Linked DNA regions of Homo sapiens: region 2 is linked to region 1. The links come from fine-mapping of genetic effects on gene expression. A gene starts in region 1. The other region holds a variant in brackets. All regions are shown on one strand. Distances are between the middles of the regions.

Region 1 (8,325 bases):
TTCTCTACCTTGATTCTCTCCCTAGTACTTGCTTATTTACTTCATTCACTCCCTGCCTCCTTCTACTACATTGTCTGCTCCAGGGAGGCAGAGGTTCCTGTCTGTCCTGTTCACTATGTATCCCCAAGACCTGGAATAGAGCATGGCCTCAAGATAGGTGCTCAATAAATTTTAATATATGCTGAATGGATGAGTAGCGTCAGCTAATACCGTTGCTCTGATGCACAGCATAAACTTGCATCTCAAGATAAAACTGCTGTTTGTGTTGTCCAATGAGCTTGAAATTTACAACTAAACAAAAGTTTAAATTAAAAGACCCACAGTATTTCCAGCTAACTATTACTCCCAAATGTGGGAATGTGCTGAGGAGAAAAGATAGTTCACAGTAAGATGGTGCCATGTGCTTTAAAAAATAAACCAGTAGGCCGGGCACAGTGGCTCACACCTGTAATCCCAGCACTTTGGGAGGCTGAGGCAGGAAGATCACTTGAGCCCAGAAGAACAGCCTGGGCAACCTAGAGAGGACCCCCCACCTCCACGTCCCCTTCCTCCCCTGCTTCCTCTTAAGTAGTCCTAGCTACTCAGGAGGCTGAGGTAGGAAGATGCCTTGAGTCCGGGAGGTCTAGGGTGCACTGCACTCCAGCCTGGGCAACAAGGCAAGACCTTGTCTCAAAATAAATAAATAAATAAACAAATAAATAAATAAAAATAAATTTAAAAAAAGTAAGCCATAAACAGCTACCCTGACCTCAGCCTGCTGAGTATGGGGTGAGAACTGGCTCCCACAAGGTTCTCATGAGAAGCAAAACACAATGCTACCATAAGCTGCACACATCCAGCAGCCCAGTGCCTCAGACCCTGGTCCCTCAAAGGACCTTGGGACACTTGCTCGTTCACGGAGAATAAGCGTAGACTGACAGCAGTAAGCCAGCTGTCTTCCTCTCCCAGGGCCTTCCCTGTCCCTGCCCTCCACTAGGCAGAGCTGCTACCCCAGCAGGACTCAGGCTATGGGGAACACGGGGGTCAATTATCCAAAGTTAAAAACTGAAAAAGAAAAACCCCTCCGATTCTCTGCGAATAGGCTGTCTTTCTAGTTAGCTCTCTTATGAGACAACTAATCATTACTCAACAGAAAGATACAACTACCACTAAACCTCGTGCAAAGAAAAAAAGTTGAAGCTAGCAGTCTCCAAGAGTTTGTGGTTTTAAAAAAGAGAATAAAACAAAACATGCAAGTTTGAGTAAAACCAGGAAGACACATTTTCCATCATAGTTTGTGCCACGGCTGTGGTGCAACCTGGCTGTTGGCTGTTACCTGGGTGTAGGCTGGGTTAGGAGGCACATGGTGCGGCAGGGCTCAAATCTCACCACACAGCAGGATCACGGCTGGCTGGGTCCCATCCCACAGTTTCTGATTCAGTAGGTCTTGGGTGGGGCCCAAGAATTTCCATTTCTAATCAGTTTCCAGGCAAAGGGATGCTGCTGATCCAGGGACTACACTTAAGAACCACTGCTCTGGCCAGGCGCGGTGGCTCACGCCTGTAATCCCAGCACTTTGGGAGGCCAAGGCGGGCGGATCACGAGGTCAGGAGATTGAGAACATCCTGGCTAGCGCAGTGAAACCCTGTCTCTACTTAAAAAAAAAAAATTAGCCAGGTGTGGTGGCACGTGCCTGTAGTCCCAGCTACTCAAGAGGCTGAGGCAGGAGAATTGCTTGAACCCGGGAGGCGGAGGTTGCAGTGAGCCGAGATTGTGCCACTGCACTCTAGCCTGGGCTACAGAACGAGACTCCATCTCAAAAAAAAAAAAAAAAGATCCACTGCTCTACAAGTCTTTCATGGTAGTGTTTGACCTGCCTCAACTGCACATAAGTACCCATCTACACACAGACACACACACAGACACACACACACGGCAGTCAAGAGCCCCTGCCTCAATCACTGGTCCCTCAAACAGCCAGATCAACCAGATCTGCCCAACCAACTACAGACTGAACGCTCAGGGGTAGCTGCCCCTGAGAAAGCTGGTCCCACTGAAGTCCTATATGAGCCTGTCACTGCAAGAGGCTCTAAAGTCACACCCAAAACCCTTGAAATCCAAAGTCACAGCATTTCTCTTTTCTGAGAGCAGTCATGAGCAATCCCACCCTGCTGCACCCTTCACACATGGGTAACCCCAGCTGCAAGGTCCGCTTTCTGCCCCAGGATGCTTTCAAGTTTCTGAATCAGAAAAAGCAGCTGAAAGAGGAAGCCCAAAACAAAAAAATAAAAAAACAGGCCACTCAAAGAGAGGTAACTACAGCCCACAGCATCCCTGGTAGGGGGCATGTTCCCCAATCTCAAGAACCCCATCGCCCCACCATAGGCAACTCCACCAGCCTCTCACTCACCAAAGTAATCAGCCTTCGGGTGAGCATCCATCTCTCGCTCCAGACGTTGGGTGAGGGCTTCTAATTTCAACTCAGCAGCAGAGGGTCTCAGCTCAGGACCTGGGACGAGGGGCTGGCAGGGCAGCCTTACCCTAGGGGAGCTGGGGCTGTCCAGGAGCACAGATCCCAGGCTACCATCAGAAGACCAGCCCAGGGGACCCTCTTTACAAGATAACTCAGGCAGGGTGGACATCACTGGATGGACAAGACTGGTGGGGCTGAGCTTGGGACCAGTGCCAAGGTCTGTGCAGCCAGGCTTCGGCCCCAGCCCAGGGACCGCACCCTGCTGTGAACCGTCCAGACCAGCTGGCGAGGATGACGGGGCAGAACTGGAAAGGTAAGATTTGGGCCCATCCTGGAACCAGGGTTGGGGGTCCACATTGGGTTTGGACATCACACCTGAAACCTCACCCCCCAGCCCCGAGTTTGATCTTGGAAGACCTCCTTGCCTGGGGCAGCTCAGGGCCAAGGGTGCTGACACAGAAGGGGTCCTGGGCTGAACAGGCCCCACAGCTGGTGCTCCGTTCTCCAAGTTTGGGGAAGGCAGGCCAGGGCTCACCCGCTGGGAGGAGGCAGTGGACCAAAGGCCTGTTGGCTTCTCGCTGCTGCGGCCACCAATGCCACTATTCTGACCACCGAGGCTACCCTCAGAAGACCTGCTGGAGCTCAGGGAGAGCTGTCGGTGATTTAGGGGATGGTCCCCGCAGGGTTTGGGCAGTGGTGGGTCACTCCCCGGGGAGCTAGGCCACCCACTCCCTACACTCAGGCCGATGCTGGGGGACACTCCTGGTTTGTCACCCCACTTTGGGCTTGCCAAGGAGAGGTTGTCATAATAGTCTCCATGAGTGAGGCAGGAAGGATCCTCACAGGGGCCTGGCTGGTGGAAAGCAGACATCTCAGAAGTCGCCAGGCTCTCCCTGGAACCACAGTCCTGGCTGCCATGCCTCGTGCCATGCAGGTATGGCCTGGATCTCTGCTCCTGCGGTGGGTACGGGGGCTGCCCAGCAGCGAGGGTGGTGACTGCCCCAGGTGCCCCTGTCGAGGCAGCAAGAGGAGGCTTGGCAGCACCATCCACAGTCAGCTTGCTGCCCACAACTTCCCAACGGGCCTGTGGGCCCAGGCGGCCCCCTCCATTGACAGGGCCTCTACTCCCCCTGGGCAGAGTCTCCTCCTGCAGGAGCTGCTGCTGCTGCTGCTGGAGGTGGATTTTGGCCATCTTGGTGGCGAACACCCTGCGAGTTTCCTCAAACTCGGGGTTGTTGCCTGCACCCTTGTCCACTCGGAAGAGCCCATCCTTAGAGGCCTCATACATGTTCAGGTCCTCGATGAATTTACTGGCCTCCAGGCCCAGGTCGTCATACTTATCCATGCTGCAGACAGGTGTCCGGGCCTAGCCCAGGTGCCGTGTGTGTGTGTGTGTGTGTGTGTGTGTGTGTGTGTGTGTGTGTGTGTGTGTGTGTGTGTGTGTGTTGAGGGCAGCGGGGAGATGCTGGCGAAGGGTCGGGGCTCAAGTCCGGCCCAGTACAAGTAAAGACTTCCACCTGCCTAGCGTGAAGGGCATGACCCCAGGATTTAAGAGTCCAGCCGAAGTTGAGACCTCAACGCCAGCTGGACCAAGTTTGCTTCCAACTCCCTTTCCCCTGGAGACGTCCTTGTTGGGGTAGCTGGTGGCACTTCGCCGTCCCGGGCCTGCTCAGCGGAGTTCTTTTCTCCTCTTCAAATTATAAAAGGAAAAAGAAAACAGCAAAAAAGTAAAATCACATCCTCCTTAGGCAACCAAACACGGAAACTCACAGCAAGGCAGCAGCCGACTGGGCCGGGTGAAGCTGAATCGGCCGGGAGGGCGCCGAGGCCGCGAGTCGGGCCGGAGCAAACGCGCGGCGGCTGAGGCGCAGGTACGTTCCAGGCGCTGGGTCCTCCGCTGCTTCCCCGGAGCTGCGATCCCGGCCGGCGCCTGGCAGGAACGCCGTCCGGGACGCACGGGCGGCCGAGCAGCGGCAGGAAGTTCACGGCAGCTGGGGCTGGCGGCCCATTGTCCGATGGCGGCGGCGGATCGGCGCGCGCGGGCCGGAGGGCGGCGGGACGCGGAAGTGAGTGCGCCAGGCGCAGTCCCTGCTGCTCGCTCGCCGGCTCTGCACGTCCCGAGCCCGCGCCGGGGCGGAGGGGGCGGCCGAGGGGCGGGGACGGCGCGCGGGCGGGCGCCCAGGGGCAGGCCTGCACCCGGCAGCGTGGCTGGGCCTCCTGCCCCCAGGCCTGGCTGGAGAACACCGAGGGGTGCCCCACAAGTCCGTCCCACGCTCTAGCACTGGGACTGCACGGGACTTCGCCGCCGCCACTGCCGCCCCCTGCGAGTCCTGGACCGAATTGGGTGCTCCGACCTCCCTTCCAGCCTCGGGTCCTCAGCCCGGCCCCGCCCCTGGCAGCGCTGGGCGGGGTCCTCCGCTCGGAGACGGGCGGCCTGGGTAGCCTGCATGGGCCCAACACAGGCGCTGGGAGTTTGCGAGGACTTTCGAGGACGCCGCTCCTCGCTCCACTGCCTCAGTTTCCCCGGTGGAAAGCCAGCCCTTTGTGCCTCTCGAGGCCGGCACCGTCCAGGCTGTGCCCGCCGCCCGGCTTGCCCGAGGTGCACTATTGGAGAGGCGCACGGGCGTGTCACCCATGGCTGGCCCACCGTCCTCTTTGACAGGTCGGGAGACTGAGGCAGAGAGGGGGAAATGCCCAACATGCCAACGTAACCAGCAAAGCGTAGATGGGAGCCCGGGCCCTCTGAAAGAGCGAAAAAGAAGAAAGTCTCGTTGTGCCTGCGCGCATTTCACGTCCTCAGTGCAGCAGTAAAAGCACGTGCCCTAGTAGGCTCGTTATTCGTAGAGGGACCCATCTGCAAGTGGATCCGCGCGGCTGCAGGGACACCAGGCCTGACTCCTTGGCGCCCCCGCATGGCCCGGGACTCCCTATACCAGTTCCCAGGCGATCCTGGAGAGGTTTCATTTCCCACACTACAGCCATCGTGATCCTAAGGCAAATACTAGAACAGACACTTCTCTACCTAAATCCTCAGTGCTTACCCCAGAATTAAATTGAAATCGGCCCCTTGCCGCAGCCTTCTGGGCCAGATCTAGGGATCTTCCCTCCCTCCCTGCACTCTAGCTGCAGGAGCTTCCTGGTGTCTGCCCAGAGCTTGCCCCTAAACTGAGTGGCTCATCTTTCCCATCCCTGCTGAAGTCACCTCCTCTTAGAGGCCTCCTCAGAGTGGTTCCTGTTGTTCTTTTTCAGCACCCTCTTTACTTCCTGCTCAGTTCTGATAACTATTTATAATTATTTATTTGTTGGTTAACATGCGTTTTTTTTTGTTTGGTTGGGTGGTAGGTTTCCCACTCCATTTGACCATATCTGTATGCCAAGTGCCTGGTATATATTAATAGTAGTACCTAATGGTCGAATAAGTGAATTAGTGAACCCCTATCTGCCAGAGTTGTGACAGAGAACAAATAAGATAATATATATGAATGTGCTTTATATTCTGTAAACCAGGGGTCCCCAACCCCTGGGCTACTGACCAGTACTGGTCTGTGGCCTGTTAGGAACTGAGTGGCACAGCAGGAGGTGAGAGGAGGCAAGCCAGCGAAACTTCATCTGTATTTACAGCCACTCCCCATTACTGGCATTACCGCCTGAGCTTCACATCCTGTCAGATCAGCAGTGGCATTAGATTCTCAGAGGGGTGCACAAACCTTATTATGAACTACCCTCATGAGGAATGTAGGTTGCACGCTCCTTATGAGAATCTAATGCCCGATGATCTGAGGTGGAACAGTTTCATCCCGTCTGTGAAAAAATTGGCTTCTGTGAAACTGGTGCCAAAAAGATTGAGGACCGCTGCCGTAAACCCAAAGTATGGTTAATGGACTCCATATCACCAGGGAGCTTGTTGAAAATGCAGAATCTTAGGCCCCATTGCCAACCTACTGAATCAGAATCTGCATTTTAACAAGATTTCTGGGCGGTTTATTTGCACAATAAAGTTACAGAAGCACTGCTATAAAGCACTATACTAAAATGAAGTATTTTTATTAAAAAATTTTTTTTGGTTTTTTATCTACAAGTAATACATGTTTCTATAACAACTTTGAACAATACAGACATATATAAAGTTTTAAAAGTTGCCTACCATCCCCTTTCTCAGAGGTAATCATAATTAAACACTCCTTAGGTGTTGGGTAATACTTATTAATTAAAAACTGGATTTTGGAGTGGAAGACTGGCTCACTTTGCCTGACCTCCAAATATGGCAGTTGTAGCTGACAAAGTGCTAGGAATATATGGCCATCCCTCTGCAAAGTCCAGTAAGCTCAGAGCCAGCTTCCTGGGTTTTCAGTTTGGACAGCTGGGACCCTGGTGCAGGAGCCACAGACACCAACCAGTGCTCTTACATTTGTCTTCTCTTTTCATCCTATCTTGGTGATGGCAGCAGTGGTCCATCTGGAGCAGCCACTGCCATGATGCTAGCTGCAATGGCGAGGTGAGGCCGTGACTGCATGCTCCATAGAGCTGGTAGGAGCTAGGAACAGGCAGGAGCCCCACTCCCTTCTGAGTTGGTGGGGCGGGAGCCCTGCCTTCCCAGGCACAGCTGCATCCACCCAGCTGTGGCTGCAGACCTGGGCATCCCTGTGCTCCCGGGGACCTAGAAAGCCCCCCTACTCCCACAGGCTCAGAAGTGCCTGCTCCTGTTGCCTGGCCTCTCCTGGTGCCCATTCTGATTTTGGAGCAAAGTTGAAGCTGAGCCCAGATACTGTCACGACCCAGCTGGGGGTGCACGCACTCAGGGCAGCACTGACACACCAGTCCCCTGCCGCCTCGGCCCCCTCCAGACTTTGGGTGCCGATGAGCATGGGAGGGAGGCCAGGGTGAGGCTGAGGGCAGTTCGGCATGTACCTGCAGGCACCCCTCAGCATGAACAGCCTGGGTGCCATGGGTGCCATGGCCAGCAGGTTGATGGCAGCAGGGGGCAATCAGGCTCCTGGGTGAAATGGGATGGGTCCCCAGTGAAGCCCCCTTCAAGACAGGGACAGCCTGAAACCTAGGGGCTGAGCTATCAGTCCTGCAGACTGGAGTGAGAATTTATGGTGCTTTTCCTGGGCCTGCCTATGGCTGCCGGTGGACCAATCAGCACACACTTCCTCCCTTCTGAAGTCCATAAAAAAAACCAGACTCAGCCAGACTCAGGCAGACAATGGGATGACCTGCCTGCAGATAGGAGCTACCCACTCTGGGTCTCTCTGCTGAAGGCTGCAGAGACATCGGGGCAACCTGCCTGTGGAAGGCAGCTACCCACTGTGGGTCTCTTCTCCACTGAGAGCTGGACACTCATCGGGACAACCTGCCTGAGGAAAGGAGATACCCACTGAGAACAGTTCTGCCACTCAGTGAGGCTCCTTTCTGCCTTGCTCACCCTCCAGTTGTCTGCATACTTCATTCTTTGTGGACACAGGACAAGAACTTGGGACCCACTGGGCAAATGGTGGCACTAAAAGATCTGTAACACAAACAGGACTGAAACACACCCCTTGCTTGCCACGTTGTGGGCAACGAGAAGGAGAGAAGAGAGAAGGAGAAAAGAGAGAAGGAGAGAAAAGCTGCAGCCCTTTGGGGAGCCCAGACCTAGGAGCACCCCAATCCAGGGTTATGATACCCTCTTTGGGGCTCTGCGGTTCCTGGTGTCTCCAAGCTTCCAGGTGCCACCGCATTCCCCAGTGCCAGCGGTGGAAGTTGCCTGTGGTACGCCTGGTCCAGCCACAGCTGTGCCCGTGCTGGCACCTGGAGCTGCCTGCACTGCCACAGCTGGCATGCCTGGCTGTGTGCAGTGGCCAGACCCCATGCTTGCTTGCTCACACAGCTCT
Region 2 (8,266 bases), 79 kb before region 1:
CTCTGAAGCATGAAATGTTCCCAGAGGGGACAGGAGGATTCCTTTGGTGCTATGATGCAACCTCAGGTCATGTGCTCGCACATGCTGGAGCATTTTCCTGAGTAACCTGAGGAAAATGTGGCAACAGAGAAAAGCACTTGGAAAATACACGCAGGAGGCAGGTAGTGTTCACCTCCCTGGTTAAAGGAAAGGCACCCCCCACATGCTCACAGGAACTCTCCCTCCTGCCCCTCCTCTTCCCCTACCCCACTTCCACCCCAGGGGCCACCGGAAGCAGCAGCAGCAACCCCGGCTCCTCATCCCCTGCCGTGATGTCTGCAAGTGGCTCTGGCTAGAAGTGGTGCTGGTGAAGGGCTGTAGATGAGGGTCTCTTCTCCAGCCTCTTCACGTGGCAGGAGTGACAGAACAGGTGGTCCTCCAGCGGATAACAGCGGTGGCCATCTTCATCATTGAGCTCCAGACCACAGTCCTGTGGGGAGGCAGACATGTCCAGGGGAAGCAAAACAAAACAGACTGCAAGACTGACCTGAAGGCCACAGTCCCCAAAATCAGCAGAGGGTGCTGTGTGTTTCTGTATAGGCAGGAAATGCCAGTGCAGAAACACAGCTCCTGCCCCGTGGAGGCCTGTCCAACACAGGAGACACTGCCACAAGGCACTTGCTGTGAACCACTTAAAATGTGCTGTCAGTGTAAATGCAGATTCCGAAGACTTAGGACAAAAAGAGGATGTAAAAATATCTCATGGGAAAAAGGAATGAGATCATGTCCTTTGCAGGGACATGGATGAAGCTGGAAGCCATCATTCTCAGCAAACTAACAAAGGAACAGAAAACTAAACACCACATGTTCTCACTCATAAGTGGGAGTTGAACAATGAGAACACATGGACACAGGGAGGGGAACAACACACACCAGGGCCTGTTGGGAGGTGGGGGTGAGGGGAGGGAACTTAGAGGATGGGACAATAGGTGCAGCAAACCACCCTGGCACACGTACAACATATATCTATGTAATAAATCTTCACACGTATCCCTTTTTTTTTTTTAGAAGAAATAAAATAAATTGTGGAGTTACAAAAAAAATCTCATGGGTAACTTTTTTATATTGATTACATGTTCAAAAGATAACATTTGGATTTTTTTTTCTTTTTTGAGACAGTCTCCCTCTGTTTTCTAGGCTGGAGTGCAGTGGTGCGATCTCAGCTCACTGCAACATCCACCTCCCCCGTTCAAGGAATTCTCCTGTCTCAGCCTCCCAAGTAGCTGGGATTATGCACGCGCCAACACATCTGGCTAATTTTTGTATTTTTAGTAGAGACAGGGTTTCACCATGTTGGCCAGGCTGGTCTTGAACTCCTGACCTCAAGTGATCTGCCCTCCCAAAGTGCTGGGATTACAGGCATGAGCCACCACGCCCAGCAGGATTTTTTACTTTTTTAAGACAGGGTCTTGCTGTGTCACCCAGAGTAGAGTGCAGTGACACGATCCTAGCTTCCTAAGTAGCTGAGACTATAGGCACAGCATGCCTGGCTAATTTTTGTATTTTTAGTAGAGACAGGGTCTCACTGTGTTGTCCATGCTGTTCTCAAACTCCTGGGCTCATGTGATCCCCCTGCCTCGGCCTTCCAAAGTGCTAAGATTACAGGCATGGGCCCATGCCTGGCTGGATATTTTGAACCGAATAAAATAATTAATCTCACCGGTTTCTTTTAACGTTTTAATTGTGACTACCAGAAAACTTAAAATGATACATGACTTTAATTTGTGGCTCTCATAATTCTTTAACGTTTTAATTGTGACTACCAGAAAACTTAAAATGATACATGACTTTAATTTGTGGCTCTCATAGTTCTTTCTTTTTTTGAGACGGAGTCTTGCTCTGTTGCCCAGGCTGGAGTGCAGTAGCATGATCTCAGGTCACTGCAACCTCCACTTCCCAGGTTCAAGCAATTCTCCTGTCTCAGCTTCCCGAGTAGCTGGGACTACAGGCGTGTGCCACCACGCCCACTAATCTTTGTATTTTTAGTAGAGATGGGTTTTTGCCATGTTGGCCAGGCTGGTCTCGAACTCCTGACCTCAAGTAATCTGCCGGCCTTGGCCTCCCAAAGTGCTGAGATTACAGGCGTGAGCTATCGCGCCCGGCCCCTTATATTTCTTTTGGATAGCACTGGTCTAGAAAATGTGGAGAGGCCTGTTGAGCAAATGTCCTCACCTTTTTCTCCTGCAGTGACCTGGGGCACCTGGGGTCCCAGCAGCAATGATTCCCACCCATTTCTTCAGTGTTGGCAGTGGGACAAGTCTATATGAGGGACACCCCCATTCTCTACCCACAGGGTCACCAAATGAATCTAATCTCCTTCCATGGGTGAATTCACTTAATTGTGGCTGAAATTCCATGGTCACCCTTCACAAGGGTTGGTGAGGGGCAACCTCTAGCTTTCCTGACAGTCATCAGGTACTAGTGCTCCTTCATCTTGGGTTGGGACAAAGGGCAGGAAGGGGCAGGCGGACCCCACCCGCCTTCACACCACCAGCTGACATGCCTGTTTCCAAGAGGGGCTTCATGATTTCCAGGGCTCAGCTGAGAAAGGAGCTTCAGGCAGATAGAACAGCCTGCAAGCTGGAGGGGAGGGAGTCCCTTCCCCAAATCGCACACCTGCCTGACAATGTGGCCCGCAGATAGGACCTGAAACCCATGCTCTCCACGACCCTCCTAGCTCTGCAGCTTCAGGGAGAGCAGCTCCAACAGTTGCAGGACTTGATAGTTCTGAATATGCAGAAGAAAGACCTTTATACCTTGAGCATTTCCATCTTCTCCTACCTCCCCCAAGAACCAGCCTTCATTCCATTTCCTACAGAAGCTCTAGAGGGCTGACCCTTGCCAGAATCTTGTTGACTGCCTCTTGCCCCAGTCAACGCAGGATGCTTTTCTCTTGGATGTCTACAATGGGCTTTGGGGGCTGGGTGGGGAGGGGTCTACCTCGCAGTGGTAACACTCCACGTGGTAGTCTCTGTCCATGGACACGACACGGATGGTCTCATCTGAGCCCTGGGACCAGAGAAAAGCAAGAACACATAGGAGAGGCCTGTTAGGGGGGCTGTCGGGCTTGATGTACCGTGGGGTGGGGAGGGAAGAGGGTTTTGGGGGTAACAAGTAGGTGGCCTTGGGAGGAGAAGGTAAATCAGGAGTACTTA[C/T]TGGAAGAAGAATACATTTAAGCTGATGAGAGGGGAAGTAGGAGGGATAGGAGTCCTTCCTTCTAGAATGTCAGAGTTAACACTGAAAGAAAGACCTACATGGACACTTATTTTAAAAAATGAAGAAAAGACAAGCCTTTCTCCTCATCTGCTAATCTAAGAATTAGTATCAAGTAAGGGAGTTTGACCTGGTTATGGGGACAAATCAGCACAAGAAGGGTACTGGGTTGGGGAAGCCAGTCAACAAGGAAGGGTGAAGACACGACTTATCTCAAAGGTGAAGTGGGGTTTTTTTTGGTTTTTTTTTTTTGGAGACAAGGTCTTGCTGTCACCTGCTGGAATGCAGTAGCACCATCATAGCTCGCTGCAGCCTCAAACTCTTGGGCTCAAGCAGCTAGGACTACAGGCACATGCCACCACACTTGGCCAATTTTTAACAATTTTTTGTAGAGATGAGGTCTTGCTATGTTGCCCAGGCTGTTCTTAAACTCCAGGCCTCAAGCAATTTTCCTGCCTGGGCCTCCTAAAAGGGGTGGGATTACAGGCGTGAGCCACTGCACCAGGCCAGAGTTGAGATTTTTAAAAGGATACCTTAAAAGCTGTAAGGACAGGACATGGATCTTGTAAATGAGCCCAGGGAGATATTCATGTCTTAGAAGCCCCTGGGAGCATGTCTGGAAGGGCATCTTACCTCAGGTGGAAGGATGGGAAGCCCACAGGCTGCACACTTGGGGGCCAGCACCCTGTGGGGAGAAACAAAGCAGCAATAAATGTTGCTTCTGGGAGCAAATTCCAGAGTCAGACTTGCACTTGGAATCCACATGGAGCCTTCCTCCATGCCGCCTCCTGCCCCTTGCTCTCCTCCCTCATAGAATGACTGGTACCTGGCTCACTTTGTGGAATATGCCTTAGTATTTGCTCCCCAGCTGCAATGAGGACACTGGCTGCCTCTCACTCTTCTGGGGACAGCACTAACTGATTTGTTTACACCTCTCATGGTGCCTAGCACAGGCCCAGGCAAACCAAGAGTGGTAGGAACCAGCACTGCATAGGGGCCTTGTGAAGTTAGGTAACGCTGAAGCCACAGGGCTTGGTGGATTCCTCCCGAGGCCTAGCTACAAATATGATTATTAGTTTTTCTGTGCTCTGTTGTTTTTTTTTTTTCACTAAACATGATTCTTTAACCCATTCCTGTCAACACTGGCATCGACCAACCTCCCAAGGTCCCTGCTGTACCCCTCAAAACCATTAAGCCTTTGCTGGACTGTGATCTAAGGGCGGCTGGCAAACACAGTTTTGTCGGTTTCCACCACTCACTCTGCTGAGATCAGCTTGGCCTACACGAATGGGTCCTGTCTGCTCCCATCCCTTCTTACTTGTGGTAATCTCGGACACAGTAGATCTTGTTCTCTGAGTCCACGGTGAAGGGCACCCCATCCAAACACTCATTACAGATGACACAGCGGAAACAGCCGGGGTGGTAGGACTTCCCCAGGGCTTGCAGGATCTGGAGCAGAGACCAAGACTCAGTGGGGATTATAGGGAAGGATGAGATGGTGGAAGGGGAGAGGAACACATCAGGCCTAAGGATTACATGAGCAGTCACACACAGAGTACACTTACCCCCGAGTTTCACCTAGGAGAAGAGCAAGAGGTGATGGGGTGGGAAAGGCAAATCTGTTTAGATGAATACACAGAAGAGACCACACAGGAATCCTTCTCCTGCAGCCTCTCACAGGGTCTCTGAGCTGGCAGGGAAAGAGGGCTCCTTTCCAACCCTCACCCAGAACAGGAAACTCTTGCATAGTTCTTTAAGAGAAAGAGATGGTAAGGAAGGGATGGGCCAATCCCAGGGCCAAAATCCACCACGAAGAAGTGGGAAACGATGCAAAGCAGGGCCACAGAAGGATACATCCTTCCCAGATTTGGGAAGCAGCAAGTACTCGGAAAAATGAAAAGAAATTCCATGTGGAAATGGCAGAGCTCAAAAGGAACCCCTTCACTTCTGCCTCTTGGATGCCCCTTCTATGCAGCTTTGACTCTGGAGCATGATAATCTAGAAGTTCTGACTCAACCCAATGACCTCAAATCCAAGTGTAATAAGTAAAGTTTCTCTGTTGTTGTTTTTAAACGCAATAGAGGGAAAGCCCCACAAACTTCTTCCTCTCAGTGTCATTTAATCTGGATCTGGATGGGATACCTGGAACTGCCAGAGCCAACCTGAAACCAGGACAGACCCAAGACATGGACAGCAGGAAAGAGAAGAGATGGAAAGAACATCCTTGGTGAGGTCCGTAAGTAACTGAATTAACTCATCATGGAACCACATACCTCCAAGCCTCTTTTTAGGTGAGATAAAATATCATTCCTATGAAGTCAGTGGTCCTCGAAATGTGTGTGGCCCCAGACCTTCAGCATTAGCATCACCTGCAAACTTGTTAATAATGCACATTCTTGGACCCCATCCCAGATTTCTTGAATCAGAAACTCTGGGGGTAAGGCCCAGCAGTTGGTATTTTAATAGGGTGATTCTGATATATATTAAAGTTGGAGGATCATTGGTTTAACTCGAACTGAGTCTGGGTTTTTTCTATAATTTGCAGTTGAAAGCATCTTCACTGACTTAATAGGAGATTCATTTCTGCAATTACCTGCATCATGAAACTTAGCAAAAACAACTGAACTACAGAATCAACATGAGCAAGGTCACACCAAAACATGCATCTGCAAAGAATGTACAGAACGGTCATCAGCATCCAGCAGTGGGAGCCCACACAGAAAGCCTTCAAACAGGCTGAAGAAAGGGGATTTTGGATTTGGGGAAGCCTTGTCAGTACACTGTGAGACCCAGGGGTAAAGATATGCTGTGTTACAGCTCCTTCCCCTGGAAGCCTCAGGCGGATAACTCCACACTGCACAAGCTCCAGCCAAGAAGGCAAGAGGAGGGCGTTGTGCTATTCCAGCTTTCCTCTGAATGCTCAGCTTTCAAGCTTCCTCATTCCCTCTTGGGTTTCCCTAACCTTTGAGGGCCCTCTCAATCTGCAGTAAGGCAAAACAGGAAGAACAACTGGCTGGGCTTCCAAAACCCATTTGGCAATTTGGACCTTGGAATGCATTTTCCCCAAGATGAATGCTGTCTTGGCAGAAAGAGATCCTTAAATTAATTTAATCCACATTGTGCCTAAAGTAAGATTAGAAAAAGATGCCATTTTGCTGCATTGTGACTAGCTGTAATACTTTTTTTATGTGAGACTATGCCTGGTTCTAACCTGCAAGCCCAGAATGTACCCCTCTATTAACAAAAGGGTATATAGAGAGACAATTTACACAAAGAGTTAGACAGCTGGGGTTCTGTCTAGACATTCACTAAAAGTTTTCAAGTCCTAGGGAAGACCTGAAAGACTGAAGCTTCAACTTCATACTATCCCATATGGTAGAGATCTCACATCAAGAGATGGGGACTATTTCCCCCTCCCCTTGAATCAGAACTGGCTTTGTGACTTTCTTTAATTAACAGAAAGCAGAAGAAACAATGTTCTGAGATTTCTGAGTCAAAGGCTTAAGAAGACTGGTAGCTTCCACTTCCTATCTCTTGCTGTAAGGAAGTCTGAACTAGACTACTGAATGATTAGAGGCTACAGGGAGAGGGGCCTGGAGGGTGAGAGGTCATCTTGGATGTTCCAGTTCAACTGTGCTACCAGCTGAACAAAGTTAAGTAGGAGACCCCAGCCAATGCCACACAGAGCAGAAGAATTGGCCTGCTAAACCCTGACCTAAATCCTGACCCACAGCATGAAGCATGATGATAAATAAGAAATCACTATTGTTTTAAACTACAAAGTTTTAGGGTGGTTTGTCATGCAGCAATAGATAAATGACATACCCTGAGGTTATCCAAAGAAGTCTTAGGATTACTAGAACTAAGAATAGGGTATAATCATACTCATAAATTCAGAGCATGTTGACTTCATATGAAGTAGGTTTGTCAGAAGGACACTAAAAACAAAGGCAAATTCTGCTAAAGAAATAGAGCCCTACAGAGTCTAGAAGATACCTGGGAAGGAGAGGTAAGCATATGTAGCTTCTGCCTACCTCCCACTGCGAGCATGGGGGAAGGGCCACGTTTCCCAGGGAGGTCTTGGCTACTAATGAGGACATGGCTCTAATAGGGCTAAGACCTCTGCTGAGGTCTGTCAAAGCCTGGGAGATAGCAGATATTCATCACGAATGGGGAGGGCTGTGGGTCACTGATGTTTTATAAATATTAGCATATAACCAGCAGAAATGAGTGTTTATGTCCATCAAAGACATGTTCAAGAGTATTCACAGCAGCTTCATGCATAAATAGCAAAAAACTAGAAACCACCAAATCCCCATCAACATGAGATGGAGAAATAAATTGTGCTATATCCATACAATGGAATTCCACTTAGCAATACAAATCAATAAACTACCAATACAGGTAACAGCATGGATGAAGCTCAAAAACATATGTAATAAGACCTGAAAGAGTCTATACTATATGTTTCTATTTATATGAAGTTCCAAAACCAGCAAAATGAATTTCTGGCAATAGAAGTTGGAATAATGGTTGCCTTTGTGGGAGTGGGGTCTTGAGTGGGAATAGACAAGAAGGAACTTTCTGGAGTTTGGGAAGTGTTCTATATCTTGATCTGGGTGGTGGTTACAGGGGTATATGCACATGTGAAAACTCGTTCAGATGTACACTTAAGATTAGTATCTTTTACTCTATGAGTTATTTCTCAATAAAAAGGTAAAATTAAAAATACTAATAATTAGAAATTATCTTCTCTAGAATGAAATTAATGAGTCAGCTTAGAGAGGGACTTAACTGTTTCCAACTTAAAGTATGTTATATAATCATTTCCTCTGATCAGTATATTAAAGAACTTCTTAAAGGCTGGTTTCCAATGGTGAACAATTTGATGTTGTATTCATTAACCTCATAACCTAACCCTCTAGGGAAAAATTGTCCCCACTGAAGACCTGAAGCCCAAAATAACCTCAGAGAGCCAGTGACTGAGCAAAGAATGGAATGTATAAAACCTGGT

The links. PIP is the estimated chance that this variant, and not a neighbour inherited with it, causes the effect.
Region 2: its variant is fine-mapped to the expression of LIMD1 in whole blood (TOPMed, PIP above 0.99).

What each region holds. Positions count from the first base shown.
Region 1 is chr3:45,590,352-45,598,676 of GRCh38, reverse strand. LIMD1 (LIM domain containing 1) reads right to left here and starts at 3,926. Exons shown (of 8, transcript NM_014240.3): 1 at 2,390-3,926. The coding sequence starts at 3,797. RefSeq lists enhancers at 1,055-1,554, 4,050-4,219 and silencers at 4,310-4,439, 4,450-4,919.
Region 2 is chr3:45,669,125-45,677,390 of GRCh38, reverse strand. It overlaps LIMD1 (LIM domain containing 1), which reads right to left. Exons shown (of 8, transcript NM_014240.3): 5 at 4,571-4,701; 6 at 3,886-3,937; 7 at 2,980-3,048; 8 at 1-469. The coding sequence ends at 332. Among named protein-coding and RNA genes, the nearest start is that of LIMD1-AS1, 16 kb to the left of the region's middle. The variant C/T (reference allele first, on the strand shown) is at 3,195.